Linked DNA regions of Homo sapiens. The protein of the gene in region 1 purifies or fractionates together with the protein of each later gene. This does not show direct contact. Each region holds a gene or a part of one and is shown in the gene's direction. Other genes may lie near its edges.

Region 1 (4,276 bases):
GTAAATGGAGTTTACAACTCTAAGAAAGTGCATTAACAATTTATACACAAGGCCGGGCGCGGTGGCTCACGCCTGTAATCCCAGCCCTTTGGGAGGCCGAGGCGGGAGGATCACGAGGTCAAGAGAGATCGAGACCATCCTGGCCAACATGGTGAAATCCTGTCTCTACTAAAAATACAAAAATTAGCCGGGCGTGGTGGCGGGCGCCTGTAGTCCCAGCTACTCGGGAGGCTGAGGCAGGAGAATTACTTGAACCTGGGAGGCAGAGGTTGCAGTGAGCCGAGATCGTGCCAATGCACTCCAGCCTGGCGACAGAGCAAGACTCCATTTCAAAAAAAAAAAAAAAAATTTATACACAAAATGCTACAGGAATAACGCATGGGTCCTATTGGGAAGAAAAAGTTCTCTAGAAGTCAGGCTTAAGCAGAACTGCAGCTCCGGGACGGATTAAGTCAGGTAAAGGTAACACTCTGTGCAGAGACATGCAGACAAAACCGAGTGTTGAGTAAGTAACTCGCCTGTAAGTGTTATGCTGCCTGAAGCTTCTCGGAGCGTCTGAGCAGCAAGGTGAACAACCCTCAGAAACCGGTCGCGCTGCCAGTATTATCGCTAACCAGTGGCAGCGAGCCCCTTTGTTTCTCGGCAGTTGTAATTGTAGTCTGGTTTGTAGGTGGAGCTGTGCGCAGGCGCACCTAGAACCAGGTGACCTTGCACATGCGCTGTATGTAACACTGAAGCCAAAAGCGAAATGATTGAGGGCAATTTTTCTTTTCTGCTTCCGAAATGTCCCTTTCGCGAATCCAGAGACCCTGACCGTCCCCATTTCTGGCTAGGGATCTTATAATTCTTAAAATAATACCCCCTTTCCTTCAGGGCCTCTCTAGTAAGTCGGCTGCCAATACCCAACATGGCGGGAGGCCCTGCGCCGGCTCAGTCTGCCTATAGGTGCAGGACTTGGAGGGGCGGGCCCCTCCCAAAGGGCGGGAGTTTGGGGGGGCGGGGCCTGGCCCTCTGCCTCGGGGTGGGCTCCGCCCCCGTCCCCCGCAGGGCCTTAGCAGCGGCTGCCGCAGCTCAATCGCGGAGCAACTAGCCGGGCGTCTGCGGGAGCCGAGCGTGGTGAGGTGGGGCCTCAGGGGCAGGTGGGAGGTGCTCGGGTTAACCGTCCGAGGCCCGGAGACCCGCCCGTCTAGGGCGCCTGAGGGAATCCCGTTCGGGCAGCGGCCTCTTGTTACCCGGGAGGAACCCGAGGCCCAGAGAGGGGCTGGGACGCGTCGTTAGGGCCCGGGGCCCGCTTGCCTCAGCTTCTTGCTGCCGCCAGCACGCTAAGCTCCAGTCGGCGCCGAAGGAGAGCTTCCCGACCCTCGTGTCCAGTAGCCGCAATCCCAGGCTGGGAGGGTGAGGCGCCGCGCTCTGCCGCCCCCCCGCCCCTCGCTCCCTGTGTCCTGGCGGATTTGCACGTAATCTATCCGAAAGCCCAGTCCCACCCGCCACCCGACTCTGGAGCTCCCATTCTTCAGGACCCTGCTGAAGTATCGCTTCTCAGCCGCCTTCTCCAGGCGCAGCTGCATTCGCTTCTCGGTTTTTGCACTCGCTGTGCACCGAGTTACTTTCCCGGCCCCTCGTTGACACCGTAAGCTCGTTCGTTAGATGTTATGCCTTGCCTTTTTCATCTCTAGATCCCAGGGCCTAGCACGTGATGATAATAGTCATGGCTTACTGTACGGAATGATCACAAATTGTCAGGTGCTACTGAATGCATTACACATAAGGGCCCATTTATTTATTTATTTAGAGACGGAGTTTCGCGCTTGTTGCCCAGGCTGGAGTGCAATGGCGCGATCTCGGCTCACCTCAACCTCCGCCTCCCGGGTTCAAGCGATTCTCCTGCCTCAGCCTCCCAAGTAGCTGGGATTGCAGGCATGCGCCACCACACCCGGCTAATTTTATGTTTTTAGTAGAGACGGGGTTTCTCCATGTTGGTCAGGCTGATCTCGAACTCCCGACCTCAGGTGATCCGCCCGCTTCGGCCTCCCAAAGTGCTGGGATTACAGGCGTGAGCCACCGCGCTCAGCCAAAGGCCTATTTAATCTTCCCAACAATCCTATGGGGTGAGTTCTTTCTATAGCTTCACGTTTTACCCATGAAGAAACTGAGGTATTCATAGAAAAAGTAATTTGCCAGGAGTCCCACAACTAATAAGTGGATGGAGCTGGGAAACTGTCCCCAGGGCATTTGATGACTTGACTAGATTGCCTTTGGGTTTAATCAACGTCTGTTGAATTGATCTTTACTTTGGCCCTGGGAGTTATTGGAGGCTAGGCTTGTGATCAGTATTTTACCGCGAAGGCTTAGAAAGGAGAACTGGTCCCAGATTTATAGAGGTCACAACAAAACCAAGGCTACTGGTACGCCCTCTGTTCCTTTAGTTCTTCTATCTTTCTTTGCTCCTTTTCGATCAGAAAGCTGCAGACATAGGTGTCATTATCGCTCACTATTTAAGAAGTGCCCCTCACAGAGCTGTGAGTTCGTAGTCCATGCTTTAACTAATGTAATGTTCATGCTTTAACAGCTAATGTAATGGAGAGAGTGTAGAATTTGGAATCAGATTGGGGTTCAGTCATTGCTCTGCCACTGACCAAGCTATAAGTTATATGCCTCCCCCCACTTTTTTTTTTTTTTTTGAGACCTGGTCTCAGTCACCCAGGCTGGAGTGCAGTGGTGCGATCTGGGTTCACTGGAACATCCTGTCTCCCAGGTTCAGGCGATTCTCCCGCCTCAGCCTCCTGAGTAGCTGGGATTACAGGCGCCCGCCACCGTGCCTGGCTAATTTTTGTATTTCTAGGAGAGATGGGGTTTTGCCATGTTGGCCAAGCTGGTCTCGAACTCCTGGCCTCAAATGATCTGCCCAACTCAGCCTCCCAAAGTGCTGGGATTACAGTTGTGAGCCACCACACCCAGCCTGTTTTTTTGCTTTTTATATAGGTAATAGAGCTGTTAGCATTTTGCAAGACCATTGGTGATAATATGGATCATGTTACCTAATGTCCTATAATAGTCAGTAATAATGGGCACTTGTTATAAACCAGGCTGTGTTTTAGGTAGGAGCTGGGAATACAGCATTCGATAAAACAATGCTTTTGCACTTGTGGAATTTGCATTTTGGTAAGTATATTACATAATAATTAGATAGGGACAGAAAAAGCATGGTAAGGTAAATAAAAGTACTAGTGTTATGTGGAGAGGTGATAGTATTTTATTTATTTATTTATTTGAGCATCTTGTCCCAGGCTGGAGTGCAGTGGCGTGATCACAGCTCACTGCAGCCTCGAACTCCTTGGCTCAAGCAGCCCTCCCACCTTAACTTCCCAAGTAGCTGGGACTACAGGTGAATGCCACACAGCCAGCAATTTTTTTTTTTTTAATAGAGATGGGAATCTCCCTGTGTTGCCCAGGCTGGTCTTGAACTCCTGGCCTCAAGAGATCCTCCCACCTTGGTGAAACTCTGTCTCTACTAAAAATACAAAAAAATTAGCTGGTCGTGGTGGCACATGCTTGTAATCCCAGCTACTCAGGAGGCTGAGACATGAGAATTGCCTGAACCGGGGAGGCAGAGGTTGCAGTGAGCTGAGATCATGCCAGTGCACTACAGCCTGGGTAACAGAGCCAGATCCTGTCTCAAAAACAAAACAAAACACTGGATGAGATTACCTTGGAAATTAATGGAGATGGAGAAGAGGTCTGAAGCCTTGAGGTTTCCAAACTTTAGATACTGGGGAGATGAGAAAAGGCAGCAAAGGAGACTGAGTGGGAGAGGCCAGAGGTTGGAAGAGAGCAACAGAGAGGCCCCACATGAGATTTAAATAAGGAGCTGCATGCTAATTTGTTTTTTTCAGGAGTAAGAAACAAATTATGTCTGTACACAAATGTCTATACTGTAGTTTCTTTCTCAGTAAATAAAATGTTTGTGTCCTCAAGTATTTTTCTGTTTTTGCTTTAAGTGACAAATTCTATTTAATACCATTCTGCATCTTAGTCCTTGTAGCATTTATGCCTCTATTCCAAGTTTAGGTGGTAGTGTTGCTTCTCTTTTAAACTTTATTTAAATACTCCTTTTGTAGTATTTTGGATGAGAGAGGATCAAATACATAATTTATCTCACTCTTCTGTCACTTTCCACTCCAGGTTCACAGGTGGCTGTTGGTCTTTAGTAAGGGTGCTGTCTTCCCTGTCTGATCCTTAGCAAAAGTAGGAAGGTAGGTCTTGTTCATTTCTGTAC
Region 2 (2,736 bases), on another chromosome or scaffold:
GCACTCCTCAAAGCAAGATCTTCTGCCAGACCCCCAGGAAATGACTTATCAGTGATTTCTCAGGCTGTTTTCTCCTCAGTACCATCCCCCCAAAAAACATCACTTTTCATGCACAGGGATGCACCCACTGGCACTCCTGCACCTCCCACCCTTCCCCAGAAGTCCACCCCTTCCTTCCTCACCCTGCAGGAGCTGGCCAGCCTCATCACCCCAACATCTCCCCACCTCCATTCTCCAACCACAGGGCCCTTGTCTCCTCTGTCCTTTCCCCTCCCCGAGCCAAGCCTCCTCCCTCCTCCACCTCCTCCACCTAATACATATCCTTAAGTCTCACCTCCTCCAGGAAGCCCTCAGACTAACCCTGGTCACCTTGAATGCCTCGTCCACACCTCCAGACTTCCTCAGGGCCTGTGATGAGGTCTGCACCTCTGTGTGTACTTGTGTGATGGTTAGAGGACTGCCTACCTCCCAGAGGAGGTTGAATGCTCCAGCCGGTTCCAGCTATTGCTTTGTTTACCTGTTTAACCAGTATTTACCTAGCAAGTCTTCCATCAGATAGCATTTGGAGAGCTGGGGGTGTCACAGTGAACCACGACCTCTAGGCCAGTGGGAGAGTCAGTCACACAAACTGTGAGTCCATGACTTGGGGCTTAGCCAGCACCCACCACCCCACGCGCCACCCCACAACCCCGGGTAGAGGAGTCTGAATCTGGAGCCGCCCCCAGCCCAGCCCCGTGCTTTTTGCGTCCTGGTGTTTATTCCTTCCCGGTGCCTGTCACTCAAGCACACTAGTGACTATCGCCAGAGGGAAAGGGAGCTGCAGGAAGCGAGGCTGGAGAGCAGGAGGGGCTCTGCGCAGAAATTCTTTTGAGTTCCTATGGGCCAGGGCGTCCGGGTGCGCGCATTCCTCTCCGCCCCAGGATTGGGCGAAGCCTCCCGGCTCGCACTCGCTCGCCCGTGTGTTCCCCGATCCCGCTGGAGTCGATGCGCGTCCAGCGCGTGCCAGGCCGGGGCGGGGGTGCGGGCTGACTTTCTCCCTCGCTAGGGACGCTCCGGCGCCCGAAAGGAAAGGGTGGCGCTGCGCTCCGGGGTGCACGAGCCGACAGCGCCCGACCCCAACGGGCCGGCCCCGCCAGCGCCGCTACCGCCCTGCCCCCGGGCGAGCGGGATGGGCGGGAGTGGAGTGGCGGGTGGAGGGTGGAGACGTCCTGGCCCCCGCCCCGCGTGCACCCCCAGGGGAGGCCGAGCCCGCCGCCCGGCCCCGCGCAGGCCCCGCCCGGGACTCCCCTGCGGTCCAGGCCGCGCCCCGGGCTCCGCGCCAGCCAATGAGCGCCGCCCGGCCGGGCGTGCCCCCGCGCCCCAAGCATAAACCCTGGCGCGCTCGCGGCCCGGCACTCTTCTGGTCCCCACAGACTCAGAGAGAACCCACCATGGTGCTGTCTCCTGCCGACAAGACCAACGTCAAGGCCGCCTGGGGTAAGGTCGGCGCGCACGCTGGCGAGTATGGTGCGGAGGCCCTGGAGAGGTGAGGCTCCCTCCCCTGCTCCGACCCGGGCTCCTCGCCCGCCCGGACCCACAGGCCACCCTCAACCGTCCTGGCCCCGGACCCAAACCCCACCCCTCACTCTGCTTCTCCCCGCAGGATGTTCCTGTCCTTCCCCACCACCAAGACCTACTTCCCGCACTTCGACCTGAGCCACGGCTCTGCCCAGGTTAAGGGCCACGGCAAGAAGGTGGCCGACGCGCTGACCAACGCCGTGGCGCACGTGGACGACATGCCCAACGCGCTGTCCGCCCTGAGCGACCTGCACGCGCACAAGCTTCGGGTGGACCCGGTCAACTTCAAGGTGAGCGGCGGGCCGGGAGCGATCTGGGTCGAGGGGCGAGATGGCGCCTTCCTCGCAGGGCAGAGGATCACGCGGGTTGCGGGAGGTGTAGCGCAGGCGGCGGCTGCGGGCCTGGGCCCTCGGCCCCACTGACCCTCTTCTCTGCACAGCTCCTAAGCCACTGCCTGCTGGTGACCCTGGCCGCCCACCTCCCCGCCGAGTTCACCCCTGCGGTGCACGCCTCCCTGGACAAGTTCCTGGCTTCTGTGAGCACCGTGCTGACCTCCAAATACCGTTAAGCTGGAGCCTCGGTGGCCATGCTTCTTGCCCCTTGGGCCTCCCCCCAGCCCCTCCTCCCCTTCCTGCACCCGTACCCCCGTGGTCTTTGAATAAAGTCTGAGTGGGCGGCAGCCTGTGTGTGCCTGAGTTTTTTCCCTCAGCAAACGTGCCAGGCATGGGCGTGGACAGCAGCTGGGACACACATGGCTAGAACCTCTCTGCAGCTGGATAGGGTAGGAAAAGGCAGGGGCGGGAGGAGGGGATGGAGGAGGGAAAGTGGAGCCACCGCGAAGTCCAGCTGGAAAAACGCTGGACCCTAGAGTGCTTTGAGGATGCATTTGCTCTTTCCCGAGTTTTATTCCCAGACTTTTCAGATTCAATGCAGGTTTGCTGAAATAATGAATTTATCCATCTTTACGTTTCTGGGCACTCTTGTGCCAAGAACTGGCTGGCTTTCTGCCTGGGACGTCACTGGTTTCCCAGAGGTCCTCCCACATATGGGTGGTGGGTAGGTCAGAGAAGTCCCACTCCAGCATGGCTGCATTGATCCCCCATCGTTCCCACTAGTCTCCGTAAAACCTCCCAGATACAGGCACAGTCTAGATGAAATCAGGGGTGCGGGGTGCAACTG
Region 3 (3,500 bases), on another chromosome or scaffold:
TGTGAGTTAGAAACCAGTAAGAATGTTCTAGATTTTATATGCTTGTCTGTTGATGAAACATGGGCTTTTTCTGGCCTGATCCAAATTGCCATATGATGTTGTGAAATACTGGATTTTTAAATGATTGGATTATGCTTTTTGTTTATGTATTACTTAGGAAGATGATGTAGAACAGCCATTTAATGACAGTGGCTGTCTTCTTGTGGATAAAGACCTTTTTGAAACTGGGTTGGAGGATGAAAATAACTCTCCATTGGAAGATGAAGAGTCATTAGAATCAATAAGAGCAGCTGTAAAAAACAAAGTAAAAAAGCACAAGGCAAGTAAAGCATGATTGCAATAAGAGTTAATCAACTGCTTCTGACCTTTGCTATATTTTTAATTTACTGTTGGAACCTTAATTTTTTTTTTAACTGAAGAAAAACTTGTGTCAGTTGACTTAAGTGTTTCAGCTGTTAATTTTGGAGACTTGCAGTACAAGTGATAGACATGCTAACTTCTTTGGAAACTAGTGTTTTGTTATTACCCTTTTAGGAATGCTGAAAAAAAAAACCACTAAGATATTTGATGGTGTAGTAAGATGCAGGTAAATAATAGGGAAGAGATGTAAATTTTGCAATCCTATAGCCTTTGAGAAATGAACCCTATAGGGTTTCAGGAAGGGTATCAAAGAGAGGCATCAGTCAAAACATTGTTGTCCCGAGTGTTTGGAAGCATAATTTTTCTTCCTAAGATTTTTTTTTAGCTTCCTGCGAGTTATTATCCCTCTTTAGGGAAAGATGTAAGCAGAGGTAAAAGAAATAAGGGTCCAGACTCCATCTGAGGTATCTGTTTTCTAAGCATAATAGGATGCTGTGTGTTTAATAATTTCTAGTTGATGATTATTGATTTATTAATGTAGCATGATGTGGTGTTGGACTACAAAAGTAGTCTTCAGCTAAAGCATCCTCTTATTTGAATTTCGTTTTTGTCCTAATCAACCTGCCATTTCTTTTAGAAAAAAGAACCATCTTTGGAGAGTGGGGTCCATTCATTTGAGGAAGGAAGTGAGTTATCAAAAGGAACCACGAGGAAGGTGAGGTAGAGCCCTGTATATTAGTCACACTGATCTCTTTACACAGGAGATTATAGATTTCTTAGGGATAAATATTTTATTTTGTCTATCATATTTTTCTGTTACCCATCATATTGCTTTGTACATAGTAGGAACAAAATATGGATTGGATTGAACAAATTCTCTGAGACTTGGGAATAAATGAATTCCTTGAGTTTATACTGCATTTGGGCTTACTCATGCTTACTATTTCCTTTCCTCTTTTCTTGGAGAGAGCAAACTCTTGAGTGATGAATATCTATCTTTCTGGATATTCATATAATTAATGTAGTCTCACTTCTTGTTTTCTTTAAGGAAAGAAAGGCAGCCAGATTAAGTAAAGAAGCATTAAAACAACTGCATAGTGAGACTCAGCGCCTTATTCGAGGTAATGCAACCCAGTAAACTTTGAGGCAAAATCACAACATTTCTTTGTAAGCTCAACTTGGATGTTGGGGACTTTTATTTTTTTAACACTTCTAATGTGAACTCAGGTTATAATATTAAGTTTAGAATTGATCTTGGTGAAAGGCCATTGTTCTAAAGCCCTTGGAACATTAGTATAAACTGAAGAAATTTTCAGAACTGTAGTGCAGGTAAGGAGGAAATTTTTTAATGGTTGTCTATGGACTGATTGTGTCAGGATTCTTTGGAGAGGTAGTAATCCCTCCCTATTTGCAGTTTTGGTTACCTGTGTCAGCCATGGTCCATGGAACTTAAAAATATCATCCCTTTGTCCAGAGTATCACGCTGTATACATTACCTGCCTGTTAGTCCGTTAGTAGCCCTCTCAGTTATCAGATCAAAAAAACACTGCATGGTTTAGTACCATCTGCAGTTTCAGGCATCCACTGCAGGTCTTGGAATGTGTCTGTCTGGATAAGCGGGGACTACTGTATATAAATGTTTAGGTCCCACAGAGATTCTGATTCAGTAGATTCGAAATGGGATCCAAGAATCTGTATTTCTAAAAAACTTCCTGGATCATTTTGATTTCACATCTAGGTTTAAAAGCCACTGGTCTTCAGGGAGCTTTTTTGTACTTAGCTCCTCTGCCTTTGTTAAAGGGGAGTTTTCTATTTCTAGTGATGGCTTTGGTTATTATGTTTAGTTAACTGAATATGAAGTGACATTTCAGAATATACAGTATATATATTTGCTTGTTTTATTCCATTTTATAGAGTCTGCACTGAACCTTCCATATCATATGCCTGAGAATAAAACCATTCATGATTTCTTCAAACGTAAACCCCGGCCCACTTGCCACGGAAATGCCATGGCACTATTGAAGTAAGAACCCTCTTTCCTTATTATAATTTTCATGAACATTTAGTTTTGTAGCAAACATCTGGCATAAAAAGTTCAGATTTCTCACTCCCTTAAAACTGATTTAACTGATATATACTAAGGGATGAGAATGTTTCACATTTAGGATAATTTTCAACTCCAGCTCAATTTCTCTTCTCTAGGTCATCTAAATATCAGTCAAGCCATCACAAAGAAATCATAGACACTGCAAATACTACTGAAATGAACAGTGATCACCATAGTAAAGGTTCTGAGCAGACAACAGGTGCAGAAAATGAAGTGGAAACTAATGCACTCCCTGTAGTTTCAAAGGAAACCCAGATCATTACTGGATCAGATGAGTCTTGCAGGAAGGATTTGGTAAAAAATGAAGAGCTAGAAATTCAGGAGAAACAGAAGCAGAGTGACATTAGACCTTCACCTGGGGACAGCTCAGTGTTGCAACAGGAATCCAACTTCCTCGGGAACAATCACAGTGAGGAATGTCAGGTTGGAGGGCTTGTAGCATTTGAACCTCATGCCCTGGAGGGTGAAGGCCCCCAAAATCCAGAAGAAACAGATGAGAAAGTGGAAGAGCCTGAGCAGCAAAATAAATCATCAGCAGTTGGGCCACCTGAAAAAGTGAGACGGTTTACTCTGGATAGACTTAAGCAACTGGGAGTAGATGTTTCCATTAAACCACGGCTAGGTGCTGATGAAGATTCCTTTGTGATACTTGAACCTGAAACCAACAGAGGTAATCCTTTACATTGTGGGGAGCCTCCCTGGAGTGATTATCCTGGTAGCTTTTGATTATTGACTACTGTCGAGGACAGAGAACACAGGAGGAACCAATAACCACTTTGATCTTATCCTGCAGTTGTTCCAGATATGGGCAGAGTCTTTTTTAGAGAAATTTGGCAGGGTATCAGAATGATCTAAGCCATGTTTAAAATGGAAGTCTGTTGGCTGGGTGCGGTGGCTTACGCCTGTAATCCCAGCACTTTGGGAGGCCAAGGCGGGCAGATCACGAGGTCAGGAGTTTGAGACTAGCCTGGCCAATACAGTGAAACCCCGTCTGTACTAAAAATACAAAAATTAGCCGGGCATGGTGGCACGC
Region 4 (3,058 bases), on another chromosome or scaffold:
ACCTGTGCGTGGATATTTATAGCAGCTCCATTCATAGTGACCAAGATGTCTTCCAACAGGTGAATGGATAGCGATGTATCCATATGGTGGCAAACATGCCACAATTCGGATGAATCTCAACATCATATGCTGAGTGAAAAAGCCAGTCTCGGAAGGCTACATTCTGTATGATTCCATTTATATGGCATTCTTGAAAAGACAAAACTATAGTGACAGAACAGATTGGAGATTGCCAGGTGTTGGGGTTGGGAGGAGTTGATTACAAAGAGGCTGTACAAGGGAGTTTGTTTGTTTGTTTGTTTTGGTGATGAACAGTTCTGTATCCTGATTGCGGTGGTGGTAACGTGAGTCTATACATATGTTAAAATTTATAGAACTGCATACTCTCAAAAAAATTAGTTTTACTCTATAATAATATTAGAGCTTAAAAAATTCATCCCTCTTGCCCATCAGTAGATCAGGATATGAAGGATACCATTGAACATAAATATTTTGTATCCATGATGAATACAAAGTATATTCTCCTGGAAAACCAATAGAACATTCATATAAATGATTCCTATGAAGGTAAAAAACTTACAAAATTCAAAGATCATACAGATCATGTGCTCTGTATAATGTAATAATAGTAACAAAAGGCCTGTCCACTTGGAAATTTTTAAATGATCTTCTAAATAACTCATTTAAAGGAGAAATCAAAATAAATTGCAAATTATTTAGAATTAATAAAAACTTCTCTAAAGCTGAGGAATTCTACCAAAGAGGTGTTAGAGGAAATTGTATAGATTTTGATTTACTTTCCAGGAAGAAAGAAGACAAAAGAGATGAATTAAACATTTAAAGCTAAGAAAGAGATAAACCAAAAGAAAGGTGAGGAATTGGTAAAAGCAGAAATGAATAAAATAGCAAATTTTGATCAGTGAAACACAGGTTTTTAAAAATGAAAGATAAACCTTTGTAAAATATGATAAAGAAAAAAAAGCAAGAAGTAATTAACAAAAATTGCCAGCATTAGGAATAATTTTAGAAGGATACCTACAACTAGAAGAGATATTTTTAATTATGAGCACTTTTATAATTTACTATAAATAATTGTGTAGTGTTAAACCAATAAATTTGAAAGACTAGATGAAATGTGACTGTTTAAAAATATGGATTGTAAAAATTGATAAAAAATAGAAAATGTAAATAAACGAAACATCTTAGGAGAAATTGAAAAAATAGGACAAGAACTTATTTTTAAAAAGAGGCCAGGTGCGGTGGCCCATGCCTGTAATACCAGTACTTTGGGAGGCCGAGGTGGGCGGATCACCTGAGATGAGGAGTTCAAGACCAGCCTGGCCAACATGGTGAAACCCCGTCTCTACTAAAAATACAAAAATTAGCCGGGCTTGGTGGCGGGCACTTGTAATCCCAACTACTCAGGAGTCTGAGGCATGAGTGTCGCTTGAACCTGGGAGGCAGAGGTTGCAGTGAGCTGAGGTCACACCGTTGCACTCTAGCCTGGGAGACAAGAGGGAAACTCTGTCTCCAAAAAAAAAAAAAAAAAAATACAGTTAGAAAAACTTTAAAGGGGCCAGGTGTGGTGGCTCATGTCTGTAATCCCAGCACTTTGGGACACCAAAGTGGGAACATTGCTGAGACCAGCAGTTTGAGACCAGCCTGGGCAAGACCTCATCTCTACAAAAATTAAAAAACAAAACAAAACAAAAAAACCCAAAACTTAGCCAGGCATGGTGGTGCGTGCATGTAGTCCCAGCCACTCAGGAGGCTGAAGTGGGAGGATCGCTTGAGGCCGGGATTCGAGGCTGCAGTGAGCTGTGATCATGCCACCACTGCTCTCTAGCCTGGGCAAGAGTGAGACTCCGACTCAAGAAGAGAAAAAGAAAAACCTTCCAGGGGCACATTTATTTGTAAACCATTCCAGAGGATAGAAAAGAGATGTAAGGCTCCCTAATTCATTCCATACGGTTAGCGTAATCCTTATAGCAAACTGCACAAATAAAACACAAGGAAAACTAAACCAAATTCAATTAATGTAGGTGCAAAAAATCCAAAATAAAACTAGCAGTTTGAATTCAGCATTGTAGCAAAAGATATATCATTTTCAAGGAAGATTTGTACCAAAACATGCAAGATTGAGTGAAGAGTAACTCACTGTAGCTCACTAAATTAACAGATTAAAGAAGTATAGTCATCTTCACAAGCTGAAAGAGTATGTGATAAATTCAACATCCTCTGGTATTCTTAACAATCTCGAAATAGAAGGAAACTTCCTTAGCTTAGCTTCTTGGCTTCATTAAATATACCTAACAGAAATCCACAGGAAACAAACTTGGTGAAAAGTTTTTGCTAAGATAAAAACGGTACTAAAAAGTACACATTTTGGGAAATGAGACAAGGCTCTCGTTATTTGTAAATATGGGGTCTTTTTTTTTTTGGACAAAAAACCCCCTGTGATGATCTACTGGCATGCTATTACAGCTAATAAAGCTGAATAAGGAGGCTGTGCACAACACCAACACACCGGTATGAAAAGTGTGTACACCAGCAATAACCAATTAGAAAATGTATGAGGAAATAGACTCTCATCCACAATAGCTGCGAGAAGTAAATATTATCTAGAAATAAGATTAACAAGAGAAATGTAAGGCCTATATAAATAAAAGGATAAATCTATGCTAGAGGGTATAAAAGAAACACAAAAATAGAGGTATGCCATGTATAAGACCCAACATAATAAATAGTTCTACCAAATTAATTTATAAATTCAAAGCAATTTCATATAACCACAGTAAAGCTTTTTAAATGGATGTAATAACCTGATTATAACATTAATCTGAAAGTCATCAGGCATAAAGCAATTTTGATTACATCTCAAAACAATCCATGGAGTTAGGGTAAATGTGCTGTTCACACAGGAATAATCACAGGTATAGAACCGAGAACCTAGGAACAGAGCAATGTATATATATATGTATTTAAAAAATGGCATCACAAGTCAGTAGAGAAGGGTTTGAACTATTCAGTAAATGATGTTGAGGTTATTTACTACTTT
Region 5 (3,500 bases), on another chromosome or scaffold:
CCTGGGTAATTTTTTCTATTTTTAGTAGAGATGGGGTTTCACCATGTTGCCCAGGCTGGTCTCGAACTCCTGACCTCAGGTGATCACCCGCCTCGGCATCCCAAAGTGCTGGGATTATAGGTGTGAGCCACCATGCCCAGCCCCTGCAACTGCTTAAGTGAGGATTCACTAAGTGTAGATCATACTGTTTCCCTAACTCGTTCTGCCTGCCACACTAAACAGAAAAGTCTGAAGTTATCCTGTAAGAGGACTGTGTACATGAAAGAGTTCCCCAGAAATAAGAAACGTGGTAGAAAAATGAGAGGTCTCATTTATTGAGCAATTATGTCCTAAACACAGTGGTGAGTGTATTTTGTCTGTGTAATCCTTCATCTCCTAATGACCTTGTGCAGTGTAGGTACTTTTTTATGCCCATTTCATAGATGAGCAAATGGAGGCTCAGAGGGCTTAAGTAACTCAAGGACACTTAAGGTAGTCACCATGGAAATAAGTAGTGAAGTCAAGAGTAAAGCAAGATGCTTCTGGGCATCAGAGCCTACCTTCTTCATCATGGTATTAGGCCTTCCCAGGTCAGTTGTTTGTGATTTGCCTTCTCTCAAACTTAGTTTCAGGATGAGTACGGTGGCTCACGCCTGTGATCCCAGCACTTTGGGAGGCCAAGGCGGGTGGATCATTTGAGGTCAGGAGTTTGAGACCAGCCTGGCCAACATGGTGAAACCCTGTCTATATTGAAAATACAAAAATTAGCTGGGTGTGTTGACGCATGCCTGTACTCCCGGCTACTGGAGAGGCTGAGGCAGGAGAATTGCTTGAATCCAGGAGACAGGTTGCAGCGAGATTGTGCTACTGCACTCCAGCCTGGGAGACAGAGTTGAGACTCTGTCTCCAAAAAAACCAAAAAAACCTAGTTTCCTCAGCTGTAAGATGGGGTCAGATATCTCCCTTGCTAAACTGAAGGAGCCAGAGCTAATGTGTGTGAAGTACCTGCTGCAGAGTGGGAGCCCATTGGTCTGCAGCCAATCATTTTTTAGGGCAGTGACCTGGCTCTAAGGTGGCCAGTCCCAGGCTGATGGTCTTGGGAAGGAGGCACTGTAGAGCCAGGTGGGGACTAACCTGGGTTAAAGTACTAGGGCTCCTGCTTAGAAAAGGATAATTTTTGACAAAATTTTGACAGCTGGGCCTGTTTCTTTGTAAAGGGAAGAACAATGCCTATCATAACTTAAGGGTTACCTTTAGCATTGAAGAACACATGTACCCATCAGAACTCAGCCTCCAAGAAGGCACTCAGTAAATTCTACCTGCCTCAAGCTTTCAGGCTTAGTTGAAAGCCTTTTGGCAGATACTAGGCAACAAAAGGGGAAAGCCTTTTTTTTTGTTTTTTGTTTGTTTGTTTGTTTTGAGATGGAGTCTTGCTTTGTTGCCTAGGCTGGAGTGCAGTGGCACGATCTTAGCTCACGGCAAACTCCGCCTCCGGGTTCACGCCATTCTCCTGCCTCAGCCTCCCGAGTAGCTGGGACTACAGGCGCCCACCACCACGCCCAGCTAAATTTTTGTATTTTTAGTAGAGATGGGGTTTCACTATGTTAGCCAGGATGGTCTCGATCTCCTGACCTCGTGATCCACCCGCCTCAGCCTCCCAAAGTACTGGGATTACAGGCGTGAGCCACTGCGCCAGTCCTCTATTTTTTTTTTTAATTAATTTTCTTTTTTTTTTGAGACGGAGTCTCGCTCTGTCACCCAGGCTGGAGTGCAGTGGTGCGATCTTGGCTCACTGCAAGCTCCGCCTCCCAGGGTCAAGCAATTCTGCCTCAGCCTCCGGAGTAGCGGAACTACAGGCGCGTGCCAACACACCCAGCTAATTTTTTGTATTTTTAGTAGAGATGGTGTTTCACCGTGTTAGCCAGGATGGTCTCAATCTCCTGACCTCATGATCCACCTGCCTCAGCCTCCCAAAGTGCTGAGATTATAGGCGTGAACCACTGCGCCTGGTCTGGGAAAGCTATTTTAATAAATAAGGGAAAAATCAGTGCCACCTTAACATTTTGATGAAGACAAATATAAGCAGAAATAAGCTGATGGCATTTATTTAGAAGGAGAAGGAAATGGAGAATCAAAATACTCATCTTCTTTTGTAGTCTTCAAAATATAGTACATATTACCATTATCTTTGTGCTATCACACAGTGTTCCCTAGGATAATGTAAGAAATTGATAGGTAACTTGGAAGACTTTGCTATTAAATTGGCTTTGAGATATGTCTTTGTCTCATTCTTAATTAAAGCAGCACCCAATAAAGCACCACTTTAACGATAAAGATCAGGCTTCTGGTGAGAAAAAATTATGTTTTTCTTAAGTGAGGTGAAATCTGAATTTCAACCATTCTTGTATCAAGTGCAGGAGTCAGGAGTGAGATAGATTGGTAGTGGCACCTCCTTATTTTACAGATGCAGAGAGAAATTGAGACCTGGAGAGAAGGGATGGATTTCATGGCAGAGCCTGGAGTAGAATCCAGGGGTCTTGGTTCATCCCATTAGCTAACTACAGAATGTCTCTAGGTTGCCCTTGCTATGTATTTAAAATAAATAAAAACATTAAAAACTAAGATGTCAGATGCCTTAAATGTTAGCATCTGGCAGTTTCACTTTGTCTCCCCATCCTAAAAACAACTGAACATTGTAGAGTATACCTGGCACTACAGAGTAAGACAAAGCTGGTTAGACCAGGTTCCCTACCCTCAGAGTTTAGCCTCACCAGAGAGTTACTATTATACAGTGTGACAAGTACTCAGAGATGACATAAGGATTATAGAGAAGGTAGCAATTAATTTTACTAGGTAGGGCAAAAATGGGTAGGCAGGGCAAGCTTCCCAGAGAAGGTCACATTTGAATTTCGCCTTGAAGGATGAGCTACAACAACCAACCTGTAGGCAAGTGAAAATTGCCCTCATGCCAGGTTTCTCATAAATACCTTAGGTTGCTGAGCCCTGACTGAAAGTGGTGCTACAGGTGCATGGGCAGAAGCAGAGCTAAATTAATTTGGTTCCATTTTTAAGCAGTAAGAGACTTGCAAAGACTATCCTTTAAAAAAAAAATCACTAGAAAAAGAACTAGGCATGGTGCTGGACACAGTGGCTCACTACTGTAATCCTAGCACTTTGGGAGGCCAAGGCAGGAGGATCACTTGAGGTCAGCAGTTTAAGTCCAGGCTGTGCAATTTAGCGAGACTCAGTCTCTACAAAAAATTAAAAAATTATCCAGGCATGGTGGTGTGCACCTGTGGTCCCAGATACTCTGGAGGCTAAGGCAGGAGGATCACCTGAGCCCAGGAGGTAGAGACTACAGTGAGCTGTGATCGTGCCACTACTCTCCAGCCTGTGCAACAGAGCAAGACCCCATCTCAAAAAAAAAAAAAAAAAAAAGACCCCCCTCCACTATAGAAAATATGAAGTTCCCACGAAGGGAACCATAATCCTCCCCACATCCCATTGGTATTCTAGCTTTA
Region 6 (3,500 bases), on another chromosome or scaffold:
GCAGGATACAGTATTAAAGTTCACTTTCACACCAATCTTACCAGCCCACCCCATTCCTGTCTCTTCTCCCATGAACCTTGAGGTTACCACTGTTTACACATGGGTATTTGTCTTTGCACACCATTTATGTGCATGTTATATTTTATACAAATAAAAACAAGCTGGGGAGATTGTTTAATTTTGTTTTGCTTTTTATGTAAATGAGATCTTGACGTTGTTTTGAACCTTGCTTTTTTTGTTCACTTGACATATCTTGGTGAATTTTCCATTTCACTGCAGATAGATGCATCTCGTTCTTTTTTTTTTTTTACATTCTTTTTTTTGAGGAAGGGTCTCGCTCTGTCACTGAAGTGCAGTGGTGAGATCTCAGCTCACTGCAGCCTCTGCCTCCCGGGTTCCAGTACTTCTCGTGCCTCAGCCTCCTGAGTAGCTGGGACTACAGGCGTGTGCCACCACACCCAGCTAAGTTTTGTATTTTTAGTAGAGACAGGGTTTCACCGTATTTCCCAGGGTGGTCTCGAACTCCTGACCTCAAGTGATCCTCCCGCCTCGGCCTCCCAAAGTGCTGGGATTACAGGCATGAGCCACCATGCCTGGCTGCTTTTTTTATTTTTTTTGAGATAGGATCTCTGTCACCCACGCTGGAGTGCAGTGGTACAATCTCAGCTAACTGCAACCTCCACCTGGTGGGTTCAAGCTATCCTCCCACCTCAGCCTCCTGAGTAGCTGAGACTACAGGTGTATGCCACCATGCCCAGCTAATTTTTGTATTTTTAGTAGAGACAGTGTTTCGCTATCACCCAGGCTTGTCTTAAACTCCCGGATGCAAGTGATCCGCCTGCATTAGCCTCCCAAAGTCTTGGGATTACAGGCGTGAACCACCACCCCCGGCCTCATGTCATTCTTTTTTTTTTTTTTTTTTTTTTTTGAGACGGAGTCTCACTCTGTAGCCCAGGCTGGAGTGTAGAGGTGCTATCTCGGCTCACTGCAAGCTCTGCCTCCTGGGTTCACGCCATTCTCCTGCCACAGCCTCCCAAGTAGCTGGGACTACAGGCACCCACCACCACGCCCGGCTAATTTTTTGTATTTGTAGTAGAGACGGGGTTTTACCGTGTTAGCCAGGATGATCTCGATCTCCTGACCTTGTGATCCACCCGCCTCGGCCTCCCAGTGTGCTGGGATTACAAGCATGAGCCACTGCGCCCGGCCCATTCTTTTTAACCTTTGTGTATTTTTCCATAATCGAGATTTAATATATTTTACCAATTCTCTGTTTTTATTTGTTTTCCGATTTTTTAATCATTGTGAACTGTCATCATTGAACATCTTAATACAAGTATCTTTGTCTGTAAATGTGGGTATTTTGATGGGATTGAATGAAACAATGTTGAGAAACATAGCCAAGTTCTAACATTGATAGGAATAGAGTAATAAGTACCATCTTCTACCCATTTCTCTATGGGTTTCATGGTCTTGCTTTCACATTGCTTCTTCTGATGGATTTTCCTAAGTCTTAACCTTCACGTCATCAGTAACAGTACCTTATTTGAGACTGGGGCACTTGGGAATGACTGCCCCCCAACCCCCGCCCCCATTATCTCCTTAGGTACTTTTCTGTTTGTCTTACTGTGTTGTCGTATTTACTCTAGAACACTTTCCACTCTCTACTGATATGTCCTCCTCTGCCATTTCAGGACCTCCCACCCTCCCCCACTGAGCTGCCTTCCCAGTGATGAAAGAAAAAATGTAAAAGCCTGAAAACCCTTCTTCTTGATTTTTAATTTTTTTTTTTCCCTCTAAGACCTTAACCACTCTGGATAGTATCACGGGGTATCAGTAGAGTGTGCTAAACAGATGTGTACTCTGCAGCTTCTTTGCAGGTTTTTTGTCACATTTTTCAGTCAAGTGTTCCAGCTTTGTGCTTGTTCATTAGAGTCACCTGTGACTACAGAGATTCTGAAAGTTTGAATCAGGGCCTGGGAATCTGTACTTTGAACAGTACTACAGGTGGTATTTATGCCTAGGCAAGTATGGGAAACAACTGTGCAGAAGGATAAAGACGTTCTTATCTATGACTAGACCATCTGAATGATTTGGCCTTTGAAGGTGACTCAAGGTTGAGCCTGGATGTTGGAGACTTGGTGCTATAGACCAAGGAAGCTGCCAAGTATTTCGCTGGTTCCTAATCTCATGAACATCAGAATCACCTGAAAAACATTTAAAGCTACGAATGTCTGAATTCAGCTTCAGAGACTCTAAATCAATAGGAGAAACTTAAAGCTTCCTAGATGATTCTAATAACCAGCCATGTTTGAAGACCAGACCACCAATGCGTACAAGAAGTAAAGGATTTGGAGTCAACATTTAAACCTTGGTTCTTTCACTTTTAATTCTTATGAACTTGGGCAAAAGGATTAAAATTCTACTTTGGTATCTTTTGAAAGAAAACAGAAAGTGGACATTTTAACTATAAGTTTCTTATCAGCCTACAATCAGATGAAGGAAACTGGTAAAAATTTCTCACTGTAATAATTGAAGAGTCTGATATTCCACCATACTTATTTTATGGATGAAGTAATATTTGGGATAATATAAAAGACTTGCATAGATATGTATATCAAATTAATAGTTTAACTCGGATGTGAGCTTTTAATTTCTTATTTAGTTATTAAGCATACTGCCTCCTGAATTAACTGCTTTTCATTTTCTTCAAGATCTAATTATCATGGACCTGCGACAGTTTCTTATGTGCCTGTCCCTGTGCACAGCCTTTGCCTTGAGCAAACCCACAGAAAAGAAGGACCGTGTACATCATGAGCCTCAGCTCAGTGACAAGGTTCACAATGATGCTCAGAGTTTTGATTATGACCATGATGCCTTCTTGGGTGCTGAAGAAGCAAAGACCTTTGATCAGCTGACACCAGAAGAGAGCAAGGAAAGGCTTGGGTAAGGTACCACCTCTCAGGGGTCTAGTGTGGGTAATGACATTCTTTATAAAGGCTAATTCTTTTCTTTTCTGGCTCAGTTATGAGTAAAGTTATATTGAACTATTAATACATCTTCTGAAAGCTAACCATGGAATTACTACCTCTAAAATTTCATTAAATGCCTGATTTCATACATTTTTAATTGAATAACAGTTGGTGCCTCATTCTACAAAGCATCATTTTTGCATAAAAGTACCAAGTACTGCAAGACCCAACTTGAACTGCATTATCTTGCTACCAGAAGAACATAGCATGGGGGGATTTCTCATCTCTTCTCATCTCTACTGCTTTTAATTTTTAAAAACTATCTGTGCCCTACTGACCTGGCACAAGCCAAGTCTTTGATGGGCTAATAAACGGCACATTGGATCCCTATAAAGTTTATGATTTCCCGAGGTGTCCTTCACCCTCTTTATTTTCATTCTCAGATATTTGTTTAATTAAAAAACAAAAATCAAACCAACTTTGTCTTTTAGAAAATTGTAACTTAATGTCTGAGTATGAGTTACTGTT
Region 7 (3,500 bases), on another chromosome or scaffold:
TACAAGGTATAAAAATTAGCTGCTGTAAACACTGAATAGGTAATGAATGCATTATAACTACTTAGTTGACCTCAGTTTGTGTACCTATGAAGGAAACTGAGTGGTGTACATGACTCATACAGTATACCATGTTTAATTGAGTAGATAGATTTTGAGGGTATGATTAGTTTTACCTTTATTTAATCATTTTAGAGTTAAAATAGCATTCACTATGTTTTACTGATTTCGGTAATTGTTAGAGATATCACTTGTGTATAATAGTTGATTTAGTCTTTGATGATAATGAAAAGTTTGAAGAAAGTATTTTCATATGGTATCTGGAACACAAAACCTGCTTTCTATCGACAATGGTTTAGGACTATCTTTAATGGGTGAAATTTTCAGTTTCTTTTTTTTATTCATCTCTCCTTCCTTGGGGGGGTGGGAGCAAGACAAAACACTACTAAAATCTTATTTATGTTATTAGGAAGATAGATCCAGAATGCTTAGTGACACAGGCATGGTTCTTTTTCTGCATGTTTGGTCGGTGGGATACTGCCATCTCTAATCTGAGCATTTTTTGGTTTTGTTTTTTGCCCAGGCTACTGCTTTTAAAACAGGCTTTATAGAATCCCTGATTGGTTTATAATTAATTGGCTTGCTCATTGATGGTAGCTAATTAATGAGGCAGTATTGTTCATAAAATTCATAACTTGTCCAAGATCACAAACTCAGTAATAATCTGGCTTTGAAGTATGGAGTCTTATCTGTTATGCTGTTATACTCTTATCCGTTCATTTGTGGCTTCTGAAATTTCACTGGTATAGAATGCAGATAACTAATAATTTTATGCTGTCTAAATATTCCTCCTGACTCGACTGGTTTCAAATAACTGGTTGTCCTGATTGAAAATATTTATAGGATGGTTTGCCAAAGAAGCCTATGAAATTATAAAATATCTAGTCCAGGAACTGGGAGTCACCAGGATGGTCAGGGCAGAGGGTAGATGTTTCATTTTTTAATTTATGCCAGGAAGCTTTTGTAAACTTGTTTAGTTGCTTTAACTGAAGCAACGCAAAGCTGAGGTGGTAAAAGGGAAAATTGCAGTCTTGAGGACTAGTTTCGTTTTTGTCTAGATACTTATAAATCACTGATAGCTCCAATAGAACATTTTTTTATGTGTGCCCAGAGTGGGGAAAGGTATAGGGAAACAAAAAATAAAATATCATGAGGAGGTGACATTTTGTTACTGAGTACCTGAACCTTTTGATGTATGGCAGAGGTTGTTAGGTGGAACAACGTGAACAAAGGGCTAGAACATGGAATGTTTGATTACTGCTTTCTACATAATTGCTTGAGTCTTCATTAGTCCAGGCCTTTTCTGGCTCTGTACTTTTAACTGTTCAAGCAAAGTACATTTTGGGTTAAGCATTGTGAGGGAAACCTAGGCTTTTTTGTGTTAGTATCTTCTTGAATTTTACAGATAATCTCACTCAGTAACCTCATTTGTGCTTCAAATCCTTGAAATTGTCGTATAAGAACAGTGGAAGACCTGTATGTTGTATGCTACATGTTTATTTTAAAATTCTAATCCTGAGAAGTTAATCTTTGTCTGGCTCGTATTAATACTGGCATTTTTCCCCGGTATGGATTTGCTTCTTTGGTATGGCTTATCTTTTAAGGAGTTATTTGGAATTAAGGAGCAGCAATAGGTGGCAGCCCTTTTACCTTTTAAAATATAATATCAGGTGGTCGGTTTTGTTCTAAATGTAATTTATGTATAAAAAGATAAGGTCAAGGGAAACGTATTTTCTTTGTGTGTTTGTGTTTAACTTTCTGGCTAGATTCACCTTTTGCCATTTAAAATAATTGTGAAGTAAATTGTTAAGTGTATTAAATTACACAAGTATAATAGCTTACATACTATATAAAACAAAATACAGTTTTATATCGTTGTAAAATAATTTTTCTAATTTTTTATAGGCTATGGATGAAATGAATGGCAAAGAAATAGAAGGGGAAGAAATTGAAATAGTCTTAGCCAAGCCACCAGACAAGAAAAGGAAAGAGCGCCAAGCTGCTAGACAGGCCTCCAGAAGCACTGCGTGAGTCTACATTTTAGTAGATATATCTTTGGACAAGGAATAACGTGATAATGGAGATCAGATTAATAAAACAAAATCAGAGTCTTGAAGCAAACTGATTTGTTTTTTCTTTTCTCCCTTCTCTACTTTGCTAGGTATGAAGATTATTACTACCACCCTCCTCCTCGCATGCCACCTCCAATTAGAGGTCGGGGTCGTGGTGGGGGGAGAGGTGGATATGGCTACCCTCCAGATTACTACGGCTATGAAGATTACTATGATGATTACTATGGTTATGATTATCACGACTATCGTGGAGGCTATGAAGATCCCTACTACGGCTATGATGATGGCTATGCAGTAAGAGGAAGAGGAGGAGGAAGGGGAGGGCGAGGTGCTCCACCACCACCAAGGGGGAGGGGAGCACCACCTCCAAGAGGTAGAGCTGGCTATTCACAGAGGGGGGCACCTTTGGGACCACCAAGAGGCTCTAGGGGTGGCAGAGGGGGTCCTGCTCAACAGCAGAGAGGCCGTGGTTCCCGTGGATCTCGGGGCAATCGTGGGGGCAATGTAGGAGGCAAGAGAAAGGCAGATGGGTACAACCAGCCTGATTCCAAGCGTCGTCAGACCAACAACCAACAGAACTGGGGTTCCCAACCCATCGCTCAGCAGCCGCTTCAGCAAGGTGGTGACTATTCTGGTAACTATGGTTACAATAATGACAACCAGGAATTTTATCAGGATACTTATGGGCAACAGTGGAAGTAGACAAGTAAGGGCTTGAAAATGATACTGGCAAGATACGATTGGCTCTAGATCTACATTCTTCAAAAAAAAAAATTGGCTTAACTGTTTCATCTTTAAGTAGCATTTTGCTGCCATTTGTATTGGGCTGAAGAAATCACTATTGTGTATATACTCAAGTCTTTTTATTTTTCCTCTTTTCATAAATGCTCTTGGACATTATTGGGCTTGCAGAGTTCCCTTATTCTGGGGATTACAATGCTTTTATCGTTTCAGGCTTCATTTTAGCTTCAAAACAAGCTGGGCACACTGTTAAATCATGATTTTGCAGAACCTTTGGTTTTGGACAGTTTCATTTTTTTGGATTTGGGATAGATTACATAGGAGTATGGAGTATGCTGTAAATAAAAATACAAGCTAGTGCTTTGTCTTAGTAGTTTTAAGAAATTAAAGCAAACAAATTTAAGTTTTCTTGTATTGAAAATAACCTATGATTGTATGTTTTGCATTCCTAGAAGTAGGTTAACTGTGTTTTTAAATTGTTATAACTTCACACCTTTTTGAAATCTGCCCTACAAAATTTGTTTGGCTTAAACGTCAAAAGCCGTGACAATTTGTTCTTTGATGTGATTGTATTTCCAATTTCTTGTTCATGTAAGATTTCAATAAAACTAAAAAATCTATTCAAAACAT

Evidence for each region.
Region 2: the proteins of CEP250 (region 1) and HBA1 purify together in Homo sapiens (affinity purification with mass spectrometry, with the first as the bait; one large-scale study listed by BioGRID). This does not show direct contact.
Region 3: the proteins of CEP250 (region 1) and CLSPN purify together in Homo sapiens (affinity purification with mass spectrometry, with the first as the bait; one large-scale study listed by BioGRID). This does not show direct contact.
Region 4: the proteins of CEP250 (region 1) and CEP78 purify together in Homo sapiens (affinity purification with mass spectrometry, with the first as the bait; one large-scale study listed by BioGRID). This does not show direct contact.
Region 5: the proteins of CEP250 (region 1) and EIF4ENIF1 purify together in Homo sapiens (affinity purification with mass spectrometry, with the first as the bait; one large-scale study listed by BioGRID). This does not show direct contact.
Region 6: the proteins of CEP250 (region 1) and CALU purify together in Homo sapiens (affinity purification with mass spectrometry, with the first as the bait; one large-scale study listed by BioGRID). This does not show direct contact.
Region 7: the proteins of CEP250 (region 1) and HNRNPR purify together in Homo sapiens (affinity purification with mass spectrometry, with the first as the bait; one large-scale study listed by BioGRID). This does not show direct contact.

What each region holds. Positions count from the first base shown.
Region 1 is NC_000020.11:35,454,122-35,458,397, forward strand, and holds the start of CEP250 (centrosome-associated protein CEP250), read left to right. Parts: upstream 1-1,476; 5' UTR 1,477-1,630; intron 1,631-4,182; 5' UTR 4,183-4,253; intron 4,254-4,276. UniProt on the Homo sapiens protein: Plays an important role in centrosome cohesion during interphase. Recruits CCDC102B to the proximal ends of centrioles. Maintains centrosome cohesion by forming intercentriolar linkages.
Region 2 is NC_000016.10:175,287-178,022, forward strand, and holds HBA1 (hemoglobin subunit alpha), read left to right. Parts: upstream 1-1,393; 5' UTR 1,394-1,430; coding exon 1,431-1,525; intron 1,526-1,642; coding exon 1,643-1,847; intron 1,848-1,996; coding exon 1,997-2,125; 3' UTR 2,126-2,236; downstream 2,237-2,736. UniProt on the Homo sapiens protein: Involved in oxygen transport from the lung to the various peripheral tissues.
Region 3 is NC_000001.11:35,759,979-35,763,478, reverse strand, and holds part of CLSPN (claspin), read left to right. Parts: intron 1-157; coding exon 158-319; intron 320-997; coding exon 998-1,075; intron 1,076-1,408; coding exon 1,409-1,481; intron 1,482-2,274; coding exon 2,275-2,383; intron 2,384-2,562; coding exon 2,563-3,137; intron 3,138-3,500.
Region 4 is NC_000009.12:78,274,075-78,277,132, forward strand, and holds part of CEP78 (centrosomal protein of 78 kDa), read left to right. Parts: 3' UTR 1-3,058. UniProt on the Homo sapiens protein: Centriole wall protein that localizes to mature centrioles and regulates centriole and cilia biogenesis. Involved in centrosome duplication: required for efficient PLK4 centrosomal localization and PLK4-induced overduplication of centrioles.
Region 5 is NC_000022.11:31,458,843-31,462,342, reverse strand, and holds part of EIF4ENIF1 (eukaryotic translation initiation factor 4E transporter), read left to right. Parts: intron 1-3,500. UniProt on the Homo sapiens protein: EIF4E-binding protein that regulates translation and stability of mRNAs in processing bodies (P-bodies). Plays a key role in P-bodies to coordinate the storage of translationally inactive mRNAs in the cytoplasm and prevent their degradation.
Region 6 is NC_000007.14:128,745,859-128,749,358, forward strand, and holds part of CALU (calumenin isoform a precursor), read left to right. Parts: intron 1-1,694; exon of another isoform or gene 1,695-2,496; coding exon of another isoform or gene 2,497-2,509; intron 2,510-2,714; coding exon of another isoform or gene 2,715-2,725; coding exon 2,726-2,946; intron 2,947-3,500. UniProt on the Homo sapiens protein: Involved in regulation of vitamin K-dependent carboxylation of multiple N-terminal glutamate residues. Seems to inhibit gamma-carboxylase GGCX. Binds 7 calcium ions with a low affinity.
Region 7 is NC_000001.11:23,309,785-23,313,284, reverse strand, and holds part of HNRNPR (heterogeneous nuclear ribonucleoprotein R), read left to right. Parts: intron 1-1,962; coding exon 1,963-2,084; intron 2,085-2,218; coding exon 2,219-2,831; 3' UTR 2,832-3,500. UniProt on the Homo sapiens protein: Component of ribonucleosomes, which are complexes of at least 20 other different heterogeneous nuclear ribonucleoproteins (hnRNP). hnRNP play an important role in processing of precursor mRNA in the nucleus.